Homo sapiens: one gene and its partner. The protein of the gene in region 1 purifies or fractionates together with the protein of each later gene. This does not show direct contact. Each region holds a gene or a part of one and is shown on either strand. Other genes may lie near its edges.

Region 1 (3,140 bases):
ATTCACTAAATCATAAACTAGACATTATACTAGTCACTCCTATATACATTCATTGATGAACTCATCTAGTTACCATAATTTTGAAAAAGAAATGTTAAAAATATAAGCAAGCTACAGGATTTTCCCCAGGACTTCTGACTCTACTTCTAGTTCTCCAACAGATCACAGTTACTTCTGTGGTGTAAATACATCAATACGAAAGAAAACTTTTATTTCAAAACGCCAATAGTAAATAAGATAAAATTTATAGAGCTCTTCTTAGAATATCATGAGATTATTTGCGATTGCAATAATTTCTGTTTCCTCTTTATAATATTAGGTGCAGTAATCAATATGAAATAGGGGAAAGTACAAGGAAAAATTTTACCTGGAACAAAATTTTTATCAATAGGTTATCACTAAGTATAAATTATGGCATATTATTGTTTTCAAAAGCTCTTTGTAATAAAATAATATCCTATGTGGATGCCAAGATTTATAATAAATATTAATAATTGTACCTGTAAGTGTCATCATTCATTTTTAAAAATGAGATAACATTTATGGTTTTAGACCTAAACAATATATATTAAATCAAGTGGATATTATAAGTAACAGTGATAAGATAAAGTTTAAAATATAGAATTTTTACCAAAGATTGATTTACCCAATTTGGAGTATTTCTTGCAGTCTTTGATTTCATCTCTAGTGACTGAACAGTTGGTTCAAGTTGTTTTGCTTCAACTTCTTTCTTATATTGTTTCTCTTTCCTTTCTAATTCTTCTCTATTTTTTTTGTACAGCATATTAACATTTGTTTTTTCTTCATTTTCTTGTTTTAAGGTGCATCTGCAGATAAAGACATTTGTCTTAAAATTCATTTTGTTAAAAAATAAGGAGTTCATCCTGTTACCTACCTCTGCAGATGTTGTTTATTATCCTAATAAAATTTCTATGTTCTGGATTATTTTTCCTTTGCAGTTCTCAGATATTTAATTTCTCACTTCAACATCTTCAAATGAATGCATATACTTGAAAAGTAGTAAGGAAAGAATATTCTGCTAAAGTTTTTGTTACTAGTCACTCTAATATATATTATAAAAAAGGATACCAGAGATAATTCAGTAAAGTTACAGGTTCAAAATTACCTTTTTAAATCACACAGTCATAATTACTCCCTAATTAGAAAAGATCATTTACAATCAACTAAATTTTTAAAGTTACTATTTATTGACAAGCGTATAAGTTCACTAGAAATAAATTTTCATCTTTATGAAATATTGCAGGTGTTTCTCCAAATGATTTACAGAGTGAGATGACACCTTCAGATGTCTCTCACACAAACTATATCTGCAGATGACTGTCATCCAAAACTAGGCTAAAAAGTCTAACATCTGTTTCCCCACACTTTTTATATTTCTTTCTTAATACTTTCAATTCACCTTATTACATATATTTTATATATTCATTAACCTATTGTTCATTATGTGTAATATATAATTAATGCATGTTAATTATATATTAATAAGTGTGTGTATGTTTACACCAGTTATGTTTTCCTGTGAAATCTAGTCCCAGAAGTGGAGTTGTTGAGTTAAAGGGATGTCAGGCTATTTGAAATTTTGATACACAGCACTAAGTTACCCTTCAGAAATAATTTACTAATTTCCTATACCAACAGTGTATGAGAATGCCTTTTTCCTCACATTTGCCAACACTAATAATTACTTTTTAAATATCAGCATGACTTTACAAAATATATCTTATTTTATGTTAATTTGCTTTTTTCTGATTACCAGGCAGGGCTAAATACCCCTGGTAAAAATATAAAACTTGTTAATCATAAGGAATATTAGTCCAATTTTCAATTAGTTTATAGCACAATGACAATTATCTCCTGTGAAATACTGCTATAGGCGGCCAGGCACGGTGGCTCACTCCTGTAAACCCAGCACTTTGGGAGGCCGAGGTGGGCAGAACACGTGAAGTCAGGAGTTCGAGACGAGCTTGGCTAACATGGTGAAATCCTATTTTTACTAAAAATACAAAAAATTAGCCGGGCATGGTGGCACATGCCTGTAATCCCAGCTACTAGGGAGACTGAGTCAGAAGAATCGCTTGAACCCAGGAGGCAGAGGTTGCAGTGAGCTGAGATCACACCATTGAACTCCAGCTTGGGCAACAAGAGAGAAACTCCATCTCAAAAAAACAAAAACAAACAAAAAAAACCCAAAACCAAACAAACAAAAAAAAAAACACTGCTATAGGCTTACCTATCATGCTCTTCCTTCAGCTTCTTGGGAAATTGCTGAGGATACGTTTTCCCAATCTTTCTTTGTTGGGTTAATCTGCCAGCAGCAGCAGAAGATGTACTATCACATATATTTTCTGAAAGTTGTATTTTTTCACTTTTGTTTGTATTATTTCCTTCTTTGACCTTTAATAAAAGATGAATAATAATTGTTATTATTTTATTCAATAAAAAGAACTTTTTCCCTGATTTTTTTTACTTGATTCAGGTTAACTATCACCACTTTAATGATAAAAGTATTTTGTGCTTACTTTAATTTTATCATTATACATAATTATTATAATTATAAGATACTCTTATTTTATCATCGAAATTTTTGTCAAATCTGCTCATTTCTGTTTGAGGGAATAGAAGAATTTTCCAAAATTTCAAAAAGGGCTCTTCTCCATTTTGTGCTTTTATTCCCATCCACTCTTTGCTATCTGGTATAAATTTTTATGCTATCTGGCTGGCAGAAACAGAGAAATAAAAAGACACAGGCATAATATATGTCTTCTGTCTTTACTACCTGGATTTTACATGAAATAGCCAGATTAAGAGGATGTGACCTTGTAGGCCTTCGGGAACAGTAAAGAAGTTTTCCCTTTTCTGTACTGAGCTACTCTTTTCCCCACTGCCTTTTATCTCTCTTTTTTTTTTTTTGAATCCTGTGATATCAAAAAAGTAAAGGTTCTCTTTGAATTATGGGAACCAACGTTTGCCACAACAAAAGAAGCAGAGTGAAACTGCTGAGTTTCTAGTGCAGAATTCTGGAAAATGAGATGCTTCCCAGATTTCACATTCAATTACCACAAAAGTTTATAGGTGGAAAACATATGGTACAGTTACCTACTTTAACCCCATTATCTACT
Region 2 (3,658 bases), on another chromosome or scaffold:
CTATTTGGGTAAGAGTAAAAAATTGTCCTGCAATCATAAAAGAAATTTTTTAACAGTCATATTAGTCCTTGGGATTCTTTTTTAAAGGGCTAAAAATACATAGTACACCATGAAATAATCAAATACTAACCTCTTTCATTTTTTCCAGTTCATTCTGTAAAGCTTGCTTTGCAATTTCAACTTCTATGAGCTGTTGCCTCAGTTTCTCATTTTCATCTTCTGTTGTTGTTCTCTTTTCTTCCACATTTTCTAATTCATGGTGAAGTCTCACAGATACATCCTTTGCAACCTGAATTAAGGTGTTTGTAACAATAAAATATAATTAATGACAATATAATAAGGGCTAAAATTGTATTCCTATTGAAAGCATTAAAACCCAATATTTATATGGTGTTTACCATGTGCCAGGCATTATTCCACAAAGTATACATATAAGCCATTCACATATATCAATCGTTTAACCCTACAAAAATCCCATGGGATAGGTACTATTATTACTTCTATTTTGTAGATGAGGAAACTGAGTCTCAGAGAGGTCAAGGTCACACAGCTAATGAGTAGACACTGCTGGGCTAAGAGGCCTGGCAATCTGGCTCTAAATTTTGTTCCCTTAACTTCTGCACTACTCTGTGGTAAAAAATGTTCTATTGCATTTTATCACATGTAGAGAAATTTCACAAATTTCCTTTACTTCAGCAAAACTATGAGGTAGATGTTTCCATTATAATCTATGTTAAAGAATGAAAAATTGAAGTTTTTACAAGTAGTGGGTTGGGCTTGAATTTCAATCTTATAGCTTGAATTCCAGTTGCTTAATCTTAGGAAAGTTTTAGTCCTTGAGATTATTATTTTTTGAATGACTGTGCATTTTTGCCTCATATTTTGAGATTATCCTGGAAATTCTAGGGTTTGGAAGAAAAGTGGAGCAGACTGGTGTAGAGGCTTAGGACACAGGTTGTGATTTTGGACTGAGTGGAGAGTCAGCCTGGCACCTATTAGCTGTTTTCCAGGCCTGGGCACTTAACCTCTGTAAAAGGTGTAGCTTCTGCACCTATAAAATGGTGCCTTAATAATCCCTACATTGTAGGATTTTTTTTCCCTTGAGAATTAAATGAAATAATAATGTATGTAACAGTGTTTGCCACAGTGCTTAGTACATACTAAGCACTCGACAAAAGTTAAGAAAAAAAGTAATACGTCTTTCATAAAATGTTTACACATAGCTTTCTTTAAAACAAAGATTACACGTGATCTTTAAATCCCAATGAAGTTAATGCAATGAACGTATACTTATTTGGTTGTGCAAGGAGATTAAGTTAATGTCTAGTTTGCATAGTCAATGAATCTGCCTACAGTCAAACTGAACTGGAGACCACACCTGTCTAGAAAATGCACTTCAAGGTTGAGATTTTTCCACTGGAAGAAATTCTGAAGGAACAATTGCACTTTAAAAAAATGAGATTATTTCATTTACCTCACACCAAACAGGCTGCAAGTTGGTTATCTGTTTTTTTTTTCCCCCTCAGGGAGTCACCTAAGTGGCAAGTGCAGAAAGGAAGAAGTCCTGGAAGAAGGAAGTGGAGTGGACACTTGCTGAAAGAAATCTTAACTCTAGTATCTTCCCAGTGCAGTTCCTATTTTGGGTTTCAACTCCCCCAGAGGAGTCCTTTTAGTGCAGCTCCTGACTGCCCGATTCCACCGGACTTCTCTCAGTAGACAGACTGAAGGGCAGATCAAAGGCTAGAGCCTGCGCTCTGCCACGCCCTTGCTTCTGCCCAGAAGGGAGCCTTCTTCTCATCACCTCTTGAAGAGCCACCTTTGCTCCCAGGAGAGCACACTTAGCTCGTTTGCTGCCAGGCCCTCCACACACTCTGCACTCTTTAGAGCCACCTGCCAGTTCTCTCCCTTCTGAGACCCTAGTATTTTGTGGTTAGCGCTACGAAACTGTGTCCCTAAGGCTCCTTGCCAGTCGCCACTGAAGACTTCTCAGCCTAAAGAGCCCTTGGCCAAAGTCCCCACCCACCGCCCCTGCCGCGCGCCATTGAGCCCCCGCGCCGCAGACCTTGAGGTCCTGCTCCAGGCTGCGCAACAGCTCCCCGTCGATTTCCCCGGTCTGGGCGTAGCGGAGCCTTTTGCGCTCGGCTTTGCGGAGGCGGTACTGCAGGATCCGGCAGTTTTTGTTGGCTCTCTCCAACTCGTGGCGCATTTCCTGCAGTTGACAGGCATCCTCCTCGAAGAAAGTGTCCCTCATCTCGTCCATCTCGGTTCTCAGCTCATCGATCTCGTTCTGAGGCGGTGACAGGCCGCGTGTCAAAATCAAACTCGCTTCCAGCCCTTCCGACACACACCGTACACACCCCATTCCAATTCCAAATTCTCAGCTTTAATTGCCCTCTCTCTCCACGAGACAGGAGTGACAAGGAGCTGAGTACAGAAGAGGAAACTGGGGGAAAAAGGCCCACTTTAGGCCCTCTCTCGTTCTCTTACTCTACCTCTCTCCAGGAAGAAGTGTGACAAACCATTATAATTAGAGAAACGGAGGCCCAGATTTGAATTTAAATGAAAACCTCGCGTTACTGAGAGCAGATTCAAATTCCGGCAAGGCCTAGGAAACCCCCTCCCTCCTTTCTTGTTCTCCTCCCTCTTCAAGGCTCCCTAACAGGTTAGCAGCCTCTGATCCCTGCCGGTACACGCCCTAATCCTCCCAGGCCCACTCTTCCCATCCCCCAGCCGGGTCCCCCCACCCTCCTCACCTTGAGAGTCTCGTTTTCCTCTCGCAGCTTCTCCATCTCCTCTTGCATTTCTTCCTGCTCTTGGAGCTGCTGCGGGTGCGGCTGCGACGAAGGGGGCGCTGCCGCCTGCATGCCCCCGCCGCTCGCGCTGCCCTCTGCGCTCTGCTGGGGGCCCTCCGCCGCCGCCGCCATTGGGGAGGCGGAGGCGACGGCCAGGGTCTCGCAAACGGCAGGGGGGCCAGACACCGGGGAGCTGCGGCTACTGCTGCCGCCGCCGTTCTTAGCGTGCATCTGAGCCGCGGCCGCCGCCGCTGCCGCCCGCTCCTTCTTGAGATGGAACTGGATGAGCTCAGACTGCAGACATCCTTCTTTCCAGTAGCTCCCTCCACCACCGCTGCCGCCCCCCGCAACGCCGCTTCCGGAGTTTCTGCTGCCGGTTCCTGGGGTTTTGCCCGCAGAAGAGGAGGATGGAGAAGGGGAGGCCCCCTCCCCGCCGCTGCCGCCCCTCTGCTGAGCGCGTACGCCTTTCCCTCGCCAGCCCCTGGGCGGCGGCGGCTGCGGAGCGCCCCCCTCCCTTTCCCCGGAGCCGCCGCCGGCTCCTCCTCCTTCCCCGCCCCCTCCTCCCCCTTCTCCGAGCGGAGGGGGTTCCCCGAGTTTCGAGGGCACGGACTCTAGCTCCCGAGGCGGCTCCTCGGGCGGTCCGGGCCTCCTGCCGCCCAAAGCGGCCAGGGTCGCGGCGGGGGCCGCTTCAGCACCAGCCACAGGCTGGACAGCTCCCGGAGCGGCCCCTTTGGGCGCCAGGGGCGTCGCCTTCTCGGCCCCACCTCCGCCTCCTCGGATGCTGGCGGGCGGCCCCGTGCGGCTCCCGGTCTTGTTACCCTGCTGTTGCTGCTGCTGCAGCTGCTGCTGCCGAACAGAATTGAGTT

What was found. The genes of interacting proteins can lie anywhere in the genome.
Region 2: the proteins of ANKRD20A1 (region 1) and MTCL3 purify together in Homo sapiens (affinity purification with mass spectrometry; one large-scale study listed by BioGRID and IntAct). This does not show direct contact.

The regions. Positions count from the first base shown.
Region 1 is NC_000009.12:67,896,834-67,899,973, reverse strand, and holds part of ANKRD20A1 (ankyrin repeat domain-containing protein 20A1), read right to left. Parts: intron 2,416-3,140; coding exon 2,252-2,415; intron 828-2,251; coding exon 647-827; intron 1-646.
Region 2 is NC_000006.12:127,512,761-127,516,418, forward strand, and holds part of MTCL3 (microtubule cross-linking factor 3 precursor), read right to left. Parts: coding exon 2,754-3,658; intron 2,541-2,753; exon of another isoform or gene 2,288-2,540; coding exon 2,063-2,287; exon of another isoform or gene 1,527-2,062; intron 290-1,526; coding exon 131-289; intron 1-130.